2 linked regions of the Homo sapiens genome follow. The protein of the gene in region 2 interacts with the protein of the main gene of each other region in a pairwise test. Each region holds a gene or a part of one and is shown on either strand. Other genes may lie near its edges.

What was found.
Region 1: the proteins of MAPK1IP1L (region 2) and C1orf94 interact in binary tests that used the Homo sapiens proteins (3 or more experiments, as listed by UniProt).

What each region holds. Positions count from the first base shown.
Region 1 is NC_000001.11:34,172,439-34,180,295, forward strand, and holds the start of C1orf94 (uncharacterized protein C1orf94), read left to right. Parts: upstream 1-4,468; 5' UTR 4,469-5,351; coding exon 5,352-5,671; intron 5,672-7,857.
Region 2 is NC_000014.9:55,054,348-55,061,807, forward strand, and holds part of MAPK1IP1L (MAPK-interacting and spindle-stabilizing protein-like), read left to right. Parts: intron 1-6,807; exon of another isoform or gene 6,808-6,824; coding exon of another isoform or gene 6,825-6,826; intron 6,827-7,332; coding exon of another isoform or gene 7,333-7,336; coding exon 7,337-7,354; intron 7,355-7,460.

The sequences.
Region 1 (7,857 bases), on a different chromosome or scaffold from region 2:
TCCATATTTAAACCTTCTTCCTACCCCAAACCTATTGTTTTTACAACTTTGCAGATGAAGAAATGTCAGAGAAGTTAAGTATATACAAAGCCACCTTTATCAAGTAGTAGAGTAGGAATTCCAATTCAAGTGTGTCAGCTGCCACCACCCGAGCTCTTAACTGCCTCCTCTCATGTGGGCAAGGAACAAGGCAATAGTAAGGGAAAAACCCCCAAGAAATGGCAGAGATCACCGATGGTGTTGCCAGGAGAGAGAAGCCACAGAGTCACAGCTTTGCTTGCAGAATATTCAAGGTTCCTTTTCAAAGTCCTAGAAATGGCTGGCTGCTCTGCAGCCCTGTCCTGTTGCTGAGACAACATGAGGGGGAGGCCCATTCCCATGAAACATGGCTGCAACCTCCTCTTCCTTTAGCTGTGATGGTTAATTCCCCAAGATATTTGCCTGGGATACTCCTATGCATGGATCCTGCCTCTGGGCAGTTTGACCCATTGAGCATTATTCGCATGGGAATGGGGGTCCCTCTGGGTTTTAGGGACCTACAAAAGCGTTTGAGTCCTAAATATTTTATGATTAGTCCCACAATACAAAGAAGAAAACTGCCACATGGAAATCAGTAAATATTTAATTAAATGCAGAGTATAACATTATGTCAACTTCATTAACTGTTGGATTTAGTAGTCATAAAAATTTCATTGCATTTGGTAACAATTTGTAGGTTGGAGTTTTCTCACTGCACAAGATTTCTCGAGTAGGCACTAAGATTGGTGAGAAATCACAGCCCATCACAAATTAAATAAATTACTCATGGCCAAAAACTTTCAAAAGCAAAATGGCAAAAATCCTTTCAATTTTCCTCTATAGCCAAAAAGTTATTTTTATGGTGAGAGGTGGGTGTGTTTAAAATATGTTAGATGAGGAACCTAAAAGGACCTACAAGAGTAAGCAGCCTTAGGGGCTATATGATGATTGTAAAAGAGCCTAGGCCATTCCCACGTTTCTGAGTTTTCCAGCCTAGCCATGTTTGTGTCAGAGATGAAAGCCAGATGAGAAGAGGCTTTGACTGGATGGGAGGTAAGGAGAATTGCCTCCTCCTTAGGCCTTCCTGGTTCCACAGAGAAAAGCTAAGAATCCCAGAATTCTAAATAATGATAGCCAACATTCACTGGATACATACATTAGCCAAGCTATTATAAGCACTTTACATGTATTATTTCATTATCGTAAAACAAGTCTATGAGGTCAGTATTTTATTGTCTCTGTTTCATAGATGAGCAAATGGAGACATTGAGGTTAAACCAACCTGCCCAGGGTAATGTAAGTAGTCAGGGGGAATTCAAGAAGTTTTCCAAGCTAAAAATAATTTACAGATTAAATGGTGTCCATGACCATTAAATGCTTCACTTTAAACTCTAAAAAAGACAGAGACCAAACTCCTCTTCTTCACTACTCTATCTTCAGCACCTCAAACAGTGCTGGGCATAGATACATGTGTTGGAGGAACATAACTCCATGTTGGATGGAAACTGGAATAAGTCAGTTTATATCACACTGCTCTGCACCAGGCACTTATGGAATGCTTTGCCCCGCCTCTGTCACTAGGTGATTCTGTCTAGGGTAGACATCTTTTTCATCATCTCTAATCCCTGTGTCTTTCACAATTTTGACCCATGATGGATGCTCAAAAATGAACAAAGCCTGGAAAGGCGTAAGTGATTATGTGAATTCGTTTCTCCATCACAGAACAACTTCCCCAGTACAACACAATTCTCCCTCTCTACACAAAACACAAAAGCTGCTATTCAGAAACTCCAAAGGCATGCATTTCAGTGTAATCAACAAGCAAACAACTGTATAACACGTTTATCTGTCAGTTGTTGTTCAAGGGACTTTCCATGTGTTAAGCAATTGGTTAGTAATAGAACATCTGTAGTAATTCTACAAAGCAAGTATTCTTCATTATCATCCCATTTTACAGACTAAGAAATCAAATGTTGTGGGCTGAATTATATGCTGCAATCCTAAACCAAATACCTCAGATGTGACTGTATTTGGAGATGAGTCCTTTAAAGAGGTAGCTAAGATTAAAAAAAAGAAAAAAGCCATTAGGGTGTGTCCTAATCTAATATGACTGGTGTCCTTTAAAGGAGTGATTAGGACAGGGACACATATACAGGGAAGACCATGTGAGGACATAGGGAGAACACAGCCAAGTGCAAGCCAGCGAGAGAGACTTCAGAGTGAAACTAACAATGCCAACATCTTGGTCTTGGCCTTCTAACCTCTAGAATGGCAAGGAAATAAAATTCTGTTGTTTAAGCCACACAGTCTGTGGACTTCGTTATGGTAGCCCTACCAAACTAATACACCAAGGCACAGAGTAACTTGCCTAAGCTTACATTGCCAGAAAACGTGAACTCAGAATCTGAACCCAGGGACTCTGGTTCCCGAGAATATGTATTTAATGATAAGAAATGTTCTCTGTGCTGTCCAATATGGTAGCCACTAGCCATATGTGGCTACTGAGCACATAATATGTGGCTAATGCAAATGAGGAGCTGAATTTTTCATTTAATTTATATAAAAATAAAGTTAAAATTAAAACAACCCCATGTGGCTAGTGGCTACCATATGGACATAGCTTTATACTATTTCTAAGTACATCACTTAAGATTTTTGCAGAATTTTCTAGAAATCTCGTCTGTGCACTCTAAAAACATGCTCTATCTTTGTTCCGTATCCCTGCTGTATTTGATTTTTTTTTTTTTTTTTTTTGCAGTCCTTTCTGATTTAGCCCCCGTTGCCTGGTCTCCTGCTGAGGGGGAGAGGGAACAGGAAGAGTGAGTGAGCTGGCTAACTTCCAGAATCCTGGGGCCTGGGCAGTGCAGGGTCGTTGGCGTTCTGCTCTAAGCTTAAGGTGTTAGCCAACCAAATGCCAAGCAGCACAAACACTGAGTGACATTTTCAGAACTATTAATATTTCATCAGAAATGATCACTTTTCCTTTAAATACACTATTTTAAAAGGTTTTCTACATTCTTAACTATAATTTTATTCAGTCTAGGCCCTCAGAATTTTCCCCAAAGGAACACATCTTCAATTTTGTAATGAAAATCAAAGGAGAATGAAGCTCAGATTTCAAAATTTAGAGTAAACATTTCCAGGAACTCAGCCCCTCTGTAAAGAGCAAGGTTGCGTATTGGGCACCTACTGTATACCAGGCACTTTACATACAGTATACCATTAATTCATCCAACACATATTTTTTGAGTGCCTACTATGTGCCAGAAACATGATCCTCATAATTTATTAACACCATTTTACAGAAAAGGAATTCCTCTCATCCTTCTCAAATTTTTCTCCTCAAAGAAGTCGGCCTGGACCACCATGGAATATTGCCTCCCCTCTTCTCCCCAGTGCCTCACTTTGTTACTAGGTTGGTACAAAAGTAATTGTGGTTTTTGCCATTGCAAGTGATGGCAAAAACCGCAATTACTTTTGCACCAACCTAATAGTTATTTTCCATCAGAGTCCCATTGCATCTGTAATTATTGCTGCTTTACTCGCTTGGCTGGTTTGCATCGATCTCTCCTCGCTAGTATACAGGCTCCAGGAGAGCAGGGACCATGCCATTTTTGCCCACCCTTATGCTTCTTCAGTGCCCAGCAACTCATCGGGCACAGAGGAGGGGTTGCATCAGTACTGGGGGAATTATGAATGGGGATGGGAGAAGTTCAGAAAGTTCTTAAGGTCACACAGCTCGGAAATGAGTGTCAGGATTCAACCCAGCCCTGCATTTATAGACTGCCATCTTCCTCTATTTGTGTCCATTCTTCTTTCTTCCGTCTCCACCCTCTTGCTTTTCCTTTTCAGGGGAATTGCTAGAGAAGCAACCCCCTGACTCTCGGAACCAGAAAGTCTCCCTCAGCAGAGGTACTGTGTCAGTGCCCAATTGAATGAAGCCGCTTCAGTGAGGGTAGGGGCCTGTTGATCAGCAAACAGCTAACTTAGCCCTTCTCCCTGCACCTCGGACCTCCTACTCCTGCTCCTACCCACCTACTGAAGCTGTCTCAGTGGTCAAGGGCTAGATCAGGCCTAGAGTGCTGGGGTCTGAGTCTCAGCTTCCCTTTTCTCAGGGGGCCTTGGACGCAATCCCTTATGACTTTGAGATTCGCTTTCCTCCCGTGTAGAACGATAATAAAAAGTGGTACTAATTTCACGAGCTTTAATAGGATTGAATGTGAGCCCAGCGCTTGGCACAGGGCAAGCGCCCCATAAAATGGCAGTTAGGATTAAAATCGAGGTTGCCGGGGGACCCCCAGGCAGGAGCTGAGATTTGTGTGGAGCGGCGAAGTGGGGCGGCGGCGCGTTTGGCTTTGACTTCTGATCCCCCGAAGCGCTCTGGGGTCCTTTGGGCCCCACCCCCACCCACCCCACCGGCGGGTCTTGGGCTCCGAACCCAGGGCGCCCCGCGCACCGAGCCGTTGCGTTTGAAACCCACAGAAAGAATTCCCCCGCTCGACGACGGCGAGGGTGTGGGAGCTACTGGCAGGCAAATTGGTGGGAGCCGCCCGGCCCAGCCTGCCTTGCCGAGTCAGCGCGCTCTTGAGCCGCTGGGCCCTTCCCGGTGCCCGCCTGGCAGCGCGGCGCGGCTGGGGCAGGGGTCTGCTGGGGGCCGGGGACTAAGGGCTGTGGGCCCATCCACACACGCCTCATCCCTTCTTTCCGGGGGCAGCAGAGCAGCAGCGGGAGACCGGGAGCAGGAGGGGTAGGGCGAGAGAAAAGCAGGACCTGGGCCGGGGGTGGGAGTCGGGCCGTTGACGCTCGCTCTGCGAGGGGCTCCCTGGGAACGCCCAGGCGAGCGCCTCCTGCGGGGCCCCGCCCCCCGAGTGCCTACAATGGTGCCAGGCCCGCACCCAGTCCTCCGCGTGGCTTAGCGGGACAGCATGGGCTGAGCCCAGGCGCCGAAAGTTGTCACGGCGGCGTCGCAAGGGGGCAGTGCCAGGGACTGTGGGGAGAGCCAGCCCTCCCCTTCCAGCTGTTCCCAGATGTCATTCTGCCCGCCCAGGCGCCTGGTTCCTGAGCTCCGCAGCATTCCACTGTTCCTAAGCTACTGGTTTTTGTTGACTTTTAAATATTTTCTTCTAAGGGAGAGGGGGAGGGAGGCAAAAGTCAGGAAAGAGCAAATAAAAACAAATCAAAATAAGCCCTCCCCTCCCCAAAAGAAAGCTGTCCTCCACCCACCCCTCCCACACAAATAGAAGGCCTCTGAACCTAACCACCTTGCTGGAGCGAAAGCCAGACAGAACTGACCCACTTCTGCCAAGCCCCATCCTCATCTCCCTTTCTGGTGAATGAGGGGTGGTGGTGGTTGTGTTCTAGCCCTGGGTGGACAGAGGGGCTTCCAGAAAGAGAGGAGGAGGATGGCCAGCGGGAATGGGCTTCCTTCATCCTCGGCCCTGGTGGCCAAGGGCCCCTGCGCCCTGGGCCCATTCCCCAGATACATCTGGATCCACCAGGACACACCCCAAGACAGCCTAGACAAGACTTGCCATGAAATCTGGAAGAGAGTTCAAGGCCTGCCTGAGGCCTCACAGCCCTGGACCTCCATGGAGCAGCTCTCTGTCCCTGTGGTTGGAACTCTAAGAGGCAATGAGCTCAGCTTTCAAGAAGAGTAAGTACCCCCCTACTCCATTGGCAGCAAGGGAGGAGGGAGGAGATGAAGTCTGACCTTCTGGGGGAATGTTCTGGCCCACTGTTGAGGCTGGTGAAACCCTAAAGGCTGTATATTGCCCCCTCCATGGTCCTTTGTCCAAGCTTTATAGAAGAGCTGACCAAAGTTCTGAAGTTTTGTGGGTGAAGAGTCAGATTAGGGCTATATTCCAGGCTGCCTCTTCACCAGCCCGTTAAGCAGACATTTCTCATCCTAAACGCATGTGAATCTGAGGTCCTTGAAAAACCACCCTAGCTAAGGCTAAGGGTTATATGGCTTGTGGCTTTCCCCAGAAGCAACTAGAAGATCCTTCCCCTCTCCCACCTAAAGGCTAGGCATTCACATGGATGAGTCTGATGGTTTTAAATCACATCTGGAATTCCCTAATACAGGGAGCAGCTGTCCCATTCAGCCTCCACAGAAGCTGCTGCAAGAGCACACATCAAAATATTTACTGGGAAGGCACTGACATATTCAGAGGACATAATAGAAAATTAAAGTGCGGGAAGATGGCTGTAAATAGCCCGTTTCCGGGATGGGAAATCCTGTGTCTGGGAAACACAGAGCTAAGTGTTTCTCCATCAGGGCAAAGTTGGGCAGATATTGTTGAGGATGGATATTCGAAAGGAAAGGAAGGAGCAGAGAGGAAAAAGGGAAATTAGGAAAAGAAAGTAAATCTGCTGTGGTTATTAATACCGCCGTTGAGCACTTACTTATTTCACGTTTTGCATCTTCAAAGTGGACTGTAAACTTAATTAATGTTCCCAGAGTCCCTGTGAGGCAGGTATTAGTGTCCCCATTTTACAGATGGATTAAGTGTTAATAATTAAGAGCTAATTAAAGACTAACCGATAATTAAGTGTTGCCTGCTCCAACACATGCTACAGCTCAGTTCAGAGATGCTCTGGAGTTGGGGAGCCATTCAGGCATTTATCAGCTGCCTCGGGTTTCAGGGATGCCTAAGCAAGAGCTAAGAAGAAAAGCAAAGTGTAAATGACACCCAGCTCTACACTACCTGCTGTCCCTCTGTGGGCTCATTTACTTACTGCAGATGAAGGTGGAAGGCACTTTGGCTAGTCCTGCCTCCCTGCCCTGTGCTCAGCATGACAAGGCTCAGACAGGAATGGCCCATCTACAGCTAAAATCCTGCTGTCAGGCCCTTCAGTGGCACTGAGCCCTTCTCCCCTGCTCATTGCCATCTGCTCTGGGACAGGGCCTTGGCAGGAGGGCCCATGGGGCTGTGCTCTGCTCTCAATGGCCAAGAAGCTGATTGTCCACTTTGTGGACCAAGGGTCAGTAGCAATTTCCAGTAGATGGCATCCTCTTTGCCAGGTCACACAGAGTTAATGGAGACAGACTCGACTTCCAGTCTGCACTTGGCTGAAAATTGAACTGGTGCACCTTTGGCCAGCTGCTTAACTCCATTTGGCCTTTACTTCCTCATTTGCAAATTGAGGGTGATATGTGCTGCCTTGTCTACCTCAGAGTTGATAATGAGGATCCAATGTGATGGGAGACAGGGAAATGAAAGATGCATTATACAAATCAGGCTGCTCTTAACATGTACTTCTTCAGGTTGGGATTTGTTGTTGTTGTTGTTGTTTTTGTTGTTGTTGGCTTCAATCTGGGGTTCACACTATGCTCCATATACCTCAAGGTGCTTCAGGGGTCACTGTGGAGTCAAGTGGGCTGGTTGCTGGGCCCCAAAATCCATTTCAGCCAGAGCTGTTTAGCTTTTATCAGTTTTACTTACTAGAGTTCTGAGTAGGGCTGAATTTGAAAAACATGTTTCTGCTATTGAGAAAAGAGATAGGAAACCAATGACTTAGACGAATAAACGACATCCTAATTGTCAACCAAATAGAACACAATGAGCTATTCTTAAAATAAAGGCGGTGTGCTGGTGGAGTCAGATAACTCTGGTTTCAGATTCCATTTCAGCCCCATGCCATTTGAAGAATTTGTTACTCTTTAATTTATCTAAACTTTGGTTTCCTCATCTGCCAAATGGAGATTAATACTATACATTTTGTAGGGTTGTTGGAATGATTAAATGGGATATTTAAACATTTATGGTAATAATTCAGATTTGTAAAAATTCCTTGCAATTCAGATGTGATCATTTCTTTAAGCTCTACAATTATTGC
Region 2 (7,460 bases):
GGCCAGGCTGGTCTTGAATTCCTGGCCTCAAGTAATCCACCCACCTCGGCCTCCCAAAGTGCTGCGATTACAGGCTTGAGCCGCCGCACCCGGCCATTAATTTATATTTTCAGTACGATACATATCATCCCCCCATACTAAACAAATCAACCCAAAAATTTTGATTTCGCTTAATTTCGCCTAACAAATATCTAACATGTATATAGCACTTTATAGATTAAGTGTGTTACTATTTTCTGTGCAGTGGGCAGGAATTATAACTTCTACAGATGGAAAATGGTCTCTTATTGAGAAGTTTTTTGTCAAAAGATAACCGTCAAAAGGATTCATGTCCGGGTTTCATCACTGTGTAGTCCCATACTGTTTATCACTCCATCACAATTTGAAGGCTGTCTGAAATATCCATGAACTCCACTGGTAATTCATGGAGTTCAACTCTCTTAACCACCCTCCTCCCTGACCCATGATTTTTACCCTAACAGCCATGAGAGTTTCCAAAAATGTTATGTTTTACTTTTCTAGTGTATGTCAAAAGACATTTTGTACTGTTTTAAAATTACTATTCTTGCTATTCAAAGAATAAAAAGTATTGTTTTTCAGATGATGGGTGGATCATGCTATAAAATGGTAACAAAGTTTTGGAAATAATAGCTTTAGATTATTCCAAAAAGAAAAAAAAGAAAGCCTTTCTTGAGTATAAATTGTTTTTATGAGTTCAAGGTTACATTGGCCTCATCTTAATAATTAGCGATGATTCAGATATTTTGGAATAGCTTTATATTTTTATTTATTTTTCTTTTTGAGACAGAGTGCCACTAATATTGCCCAGGCTGGTCTCTTAACTACTGGCCTCAAGCGGTCTTCCCACCTCAGCCTCCTGAGAAGCTGGGATTACAGGTGCACACTACCAAGCGCGGCTTAGAATAGCTTTTTAGAAAACCTAAACTTTTTATGTTCTGCAACTCTCCTCATATTGAAACGTTCATGTCCAACTGTTTTTCACCTTTTCTAATGAAAGTATTCTCCAAAGAACAAATTGGAATGCTTCCAATTATAGTTGTTCCCCCTTATCCTAGGGGGACACATTGCAAGACTCCCCAATGAATCCCTGAAACTGAAGTCTGTATACACTGCCGAAGCCTAAGTATACCATGTTTTTTAGATCTAATAACCAAGATGGGCTGATAGCGTATACAGCATGGATACACTGGACAAAGGGATGATTCACGTCCTAGGCAGGAGGGGGCAAACTTTCATTTTGCTACTCAGAACATGCTCTTGCCCCATTTAAAACTTAGGAATTGGCCAGGTGCAGTGGTTCATGCCTAATCCCAGCACTTTGGGAGACTGAGGTGGGCGGATTACTTGAGGCCAGGAGTTTGAGACCAGCCTGGCCAACATGGTGAAACCCCGTCTCTACCAAAAATTAAAAATTAGCCGGGCGTGGTGGCACGTGCCTATAATCCCAGCTACTTGAGAGGCTCAGGTAGGAGAATCACTTAAACCTGGGAGGCGGAGGTTGCAGTGAGTCAAGATCACACTACTGCACTTTAGCCTGGGTGGCAGAGCGAGACTCCATCTCAAAAACAAAACAAAAAACTTACGAATTATTTATTTCTGGAATTTTTCATTTAATATGTTCGGACCTTAGGTAATTAAAACCACAGATAAGGGGGGATCACCCTAACATGAACGCTGTTTATTCTAGGAATGGAGAGCTGGTCACTTTACTAAGACAGTGCCGTAGAACAGAACTTGTTACTAATTCCTATGCTTAGGGCTTTGTTTTTTAATCACAAGATTCTAGCACCTCCCCTATCTTCCAGACTTGGATTTTGAACTTTAAAATTTTGAAGTAGTGTTGTGAATCAGTTGAATATTATTAACTTGTAGAATAATTTATGTAATTCCATGACTAGGTAACTGTATAATTCTGAAAACCTGAACAGTCAAGGCCATTTGGTTCACTTTGATTCTCAACTCCAGAATTAATATGAACTTTGATACAGAATCATTTTCTATTTCAGAAAGGCTAACCCTGTTTAAAAAGCATGTTAGCCTTACAACTTACCGTATATTTTCTACACTGTTAGTCCTAAAAATTTTATTGTGTGATGTGATTGACGTTAAACCTTAACATGGGAATGGGTTGTATGTGGGTTTTTTTGTTTTTTTGTTTTTGAGACGGAGTTTGCACTGTCACCCAGGCTGGAGTGCAGTGGCTTGATCTCAGCTCACTGCAAGCTCCGCCTCCTGGGTTCGCGCCATTCTCTTGCCTCAGCCTCCTGAGTAGCTGGGACTACAGGTGCCCACCATTATGCCTGGCTAATTTTTTGTATTTTTAGTAGAGACGGGGTTTCACCTTGTTAGCCAGGATGGTCTCAATCTCCTGACTTCGTGATCCGCCCTCCTCGGCCTCCCAAAGTGCTGGGATTACAGGCGTGAGCCACCGCGCCCGGCCATGTTTTTTGATATTCTGAATAAAAAGGATATAGCAGTTGGGATAGGCTTGGGTTCTTGTCCTTTATGTTCTTGTCCTTTCCTCATGATAATCAAATCATAATTAGAAATAAGATGCTAAGAATACAAAGGTGGCTCTATGTTAATACTGTATTGATAGGTCAAAGGAGAAAAAGCATGAGATCAATTCATTAGATACTGAAAAGTCTTTTGAGGGAATTTAATGTCTTCTTGCTTTCTTTATTAACAGAATAGGAATAAATAATAGCATAGGCATAAATTAAAAATAATGTAATTTTTTAAAATCTCAAACTAAAAATGGGAATCATACTTAAACATTAGCATTCCCAGGAGAGTTGGAGCAAGACCTCTGTGCCCACTATCACTCAACATTTCATTATTTAAGTCCTAGCAAGTGCAAAACAGAAAAGATGCATAAATATTAGAGAAGGAAAGTTATTTTTTGCAAATGGCGTATTTTTTATCTGGAAATACCAGAGAATCAAGTGAGAAACTTTGAAGAATAAAATAATTCAGTAATGATGCTTCCTACCCTAGGTTAATTAATATAAAGAAGAGTTAAATTCCTATGGCATATTTCTGGTAACAAAAACATCACTAAACTTTTAAATAAAACCCAAAACACTTCTAGTATTAAACATTTAAATGAGCTGGGCGCAGTGGCTCACGCCTGTAATCCCAGCACTTTGGGAGGCCAAGGTGGGCGGATCACAAGGTCAAGAGATGGAGACCATCCTGGACAACATGGTGAAACCCCGTCTCTACTAAAAATACAAAAATTAGTGGGTGTAGTGGCCCGCACCTGTAGTCCCAGCTACTCAGGAGACTGAGGCACGAGAATCGCTTAAACTGAGGAGGCGGAGGTTACAGTGAACCAAGATCGCGCCACTGCACTCCAGTCTGGCGACAGAGCGAGACTCCATCTCAAAAAAAAAAAAAAATTTAAATGATTTCTACTAAAAATTTTAAAAATTAGCATGCCTATGGTCCCAGCTACTCAAAGGCTAAGGTGGGAGGATCCACTTGAGCCTGGGAGGTGGAGGTTGCAGTGAGCTGTGATCACACCACTGCACTCCAGCCTCGGTGACAGAGCAAGACCCTGTCTCAAAAAAAAATTGAATGAATGTGAGCTGTGTATACATTTAAGAAAGATTAATAAAAAGATAATTATTTGCCTCCCTCTTCCAGTTCAGGGTCTCAATGGCTGGAGCCTTTCTTGGCAATTCAGAGTCCAAGTTGGGAACCAGCCCTGAACTGGACGCCATCCCAGCACAGGGTGCTCTCACCTACACCCACGCTCACAGACTGGGCCGCGTAGACACATCCATTCATGTGCATCTTTGGGATATGGGAGGAAACTGGAGTACTTGGAGAAGACCCATAAAGATGGGAGAATGAGCCAGCTTCACACAGACAGTGACCTCAGCTGAGACTTTTTGTTTTTTCTTCTCATCAACATTATAACAAAACAAAGTTGAATGAAACGTCTTTCGAGGACCTGCTATAGACTAAAATTTTAAAACCCTGTCCCATATATGAACGAACAATTAGAAAATACAGTAGAAGAAAAGAGCCTATTTACAACCACAGGGAAAAGTTTAACAGAAATCCCTTAAAAGAAATGTATATAGGAGATCTGATCAAGAAAATAAACTACATGAAAAGGACAGGAACTAAACAGTCCTCTGTGTCTGCATTTGCGGGTAGAAAATATTCAGGGAGCCGGGTGCGGTGGCTCATGCCTGTAATCCCAGCACTTTGGGAGGCTGAGGCGGGCGGATCACGTGAGGCCAGGAGTTCAAGAGCAGCCTGGCCAACGTGGTGAAACCCTGTCTCTATTAAAAATACAAAAAATTAGCCGGGCATGGCGGCGCTTGCCTATAATCCCAGTTACTCAGGAGGCTGAGGCAGGAGAATCTCTTGAACCCAGGAGATGGAGGTTGCAGTGAGCTGACATCATGCTATTGCACTCTAGCCTGGGCAACAGAGTGAGACCCTGTCTCAAAAAAAAAAAAATACTTGGGGGAAACAATAAAAATAACCATAGAAAATATAAGTTAATATAATTATATAGTATTCACACTTTTAAGTATTATAAATAATATAGAGATGATTTATACGGGAAGATGTGCATAGGTTATATGCAAATACTACACCATTTTATATCAGGTACTTGAGCATCCTGGGATTTGAGTATCTATGGGGGTCCTAGAACCAATCTCCCTCAGGTACCGAGGGACTATACTATACCTTGTTCTTGAACGAGATGATTTGACATTTTAAATAGATGTTCCCCTAGATTAATCTGTAAATATAATACATTTCCAACCAGAATGCTAACACATTAATTTTTTTTTTTAACGATCTGGAAAAAATAAAAATACATAGGAAAATCTGAAAAAAAAAAAAAAAAAAAAGACAGTAGGGTGACTCACATTAATGTTTATTTAAAATATATTGTAAAGCTTCTGTAATTAAAATGGAATGGTACAGTTGCAGACCAGTAGAAAAGAATAAAGTCAGCTGGGCACAGTATCTCACGCCTGTAATCCCAAGACTTTGGGAGGCCGAGGCAGGCAGATCACTTGAGCTCCGGAGTTCAAGACCAGCCTGGGCAACATGGTGAAACTCCATCTCTACAAAAAAACTAGCTGGGCAGGATCGATTGAGCCCAGAAGGTCGAGTCTGCAGTGAGCTTATGATGGTGCCACTGCACTCTGGCCAGGGAACAAAGCAAGACTGTTTCAAAAAGAAAAGAATAAAGTCCACAATATCTGTGGGAAATGAAGGAGGCTCTATAGCCTGCTTGTTAAGAGCCTAAGTTCTGGAGTCATACTGGGTTTGAACTGCTTCTCTCCTTGTCATTAGCTCTGGGACCTTAAACAAGTTAACTTGCCAAGCTTCCTCTTCTCCAGCTGTAAACTGGGGGTGAAAATAAAATTTGTATCTGGGTTCTGGAGCTACCAAGTGAGGTGGTGCACAGTACACCACCATGTTCCATGTTTCATGGTAAATATTGGATAGATGCTAGTTATAAATGGCAGCAGTATAGTGTAGTAAAGGTAGCTTGTCCAATTAGCTGAGAAAAGATAGATAGTTGATAATTATTGTTTGGAAGAATTTAAAGGTTTTAAACAAGAAGTTAAACCATAAAAATACTATATGAAAGCAAGGCAGAGTAGGGAAGGCCTTTGTAAATATATCACAAAATCCAGAAGCCACGTATAGGAAAACATTGATAGATTTGATGACATGAAATTTAAAACTTTTGTATAACCAAAATATGCCCTTTAAGAGATCTACAGATAAAAGGAATTTTGGAGAAATTTTTTTTTTTTTTTTTTTTTTTTTTTTTTTTTTTGATATGGAGTAGCCCTCCGTTGCCCAGGCTGGAGTGCAGTGGCGCAATCTCGGCTCACTGCAAGCTCCGCCTCCCAGGTTCATGCCATTCTCCTGCCTCAGCCTCCCAAGTAGCTGGGACTACAGGCACCCGCCACCACACTGGGCTAATCGTTTTTTTGTATTTTTAGTAGAGACGGGGTTTCACCGTGTTAGCCAGGATGGTCTCGATCTCTTGACCTCGTGATCCGCCTGCCTCGGCCTCCCAAAGTGCTGGGATTATAGGCGTGAGCCACTGCACCCGGCCAAAAAATTTTAATCTCATATATGAAAGCTAGTCTGCTTAGTATCTTACAAAGCAGTGAGAGAAAAAGATGTGCTACTGAGTAATAAAATGATCAAAGGCAAAGAGTACCTACAGTCTTTTATTTATATAAAGTCAAAGAACAAGCAAAATTAAGTCAAAAATTGACTGCCATGAGGCAAGGTAGTTGATTGGAAAAGAGCATGAGTAAACTTTCTGGAGTGAGAAATGTTCTGTATCTTGGGGTGGTTATAGGGGCGTATACAATTATCAGAGCTTGTTAATCTGAACACTTAAGATCTCTGCATTTTGTTGAGTGCTAATTACACTTCAATTTAAAAATTGGTAAAAGTACTCCAGGACATCAATAAATTTAAATTTGGGAGTACACACAGTGGCTCATGGCTATAATCCCAATACTTTGGGAGGCTGAGGCAGGAGGGTCCTTTGATCCCAGGAGTTTGAGACCGGGTCTGGGCAACATAGTGAGACACCTGTCTCTGCAATAAATTTTTAAAATTTTAAGAAATTTGCTGGGCATGATGGCACACACCTGTAGTACCGGCTATTAGGGAGACTGAGGCAAGAAGATGACTTGAGCCCAGGAGGTCAAGATTGCAGTGAGCTGTGATCTCTCTCGCCACTGCACTCCAGCCTGGGTGACAGAATGAGACCCTGTCTCCAAAAAAAAGACGAGGAAATGTAAGTTAAAATAAGACGCTAATTTTTAATATCTATTGTCATTATAAACAATAAATTTAATAATATCCAGTGGTAAAAGGAGTTAGAGAAATGAGTGTAAATTGGCATGGACTTTTCAAATGGATTTTAGATAAATTTATCTGTTGACTCTAAATTCCATGTCCAGTGCTTTTTCCTGGTGTTAGATTCTCACACACAAACAAAGAAGTGTTGAGAGATGTTCACTGTATCATACTTAAAACAACTTATACTGCTACAAAAAGAAGGTAAATTAAATTGCAAATCATTTTTGTATGATGTGCAGCCATTAAAAGGGATGAAGTTAATAGAGCTGTATGAACTATTATGGAAAACTTTCCTATGTAAAGAAAAACACATTACATAAATAAGATTCCGCTTAAGTAATAATAATGTATGCATAGAAAGTTCCTTAAGGAATATTTAAGAAATGGTGAACACTGATTTTGAAATTTTTCTTTCTTCCTTCATTTCTTTTCTTTTTTTAGGAAAATGTCTGATGAATTTTCGGTAAGTTGATCAGTTTATCTGTGATAAGTTTTTCATCTCTTAAGAAAAACAACATGGTCCTAACTGGGCTACGTAAATCTTTTCACTTAAAAGAGATGCTTTAACC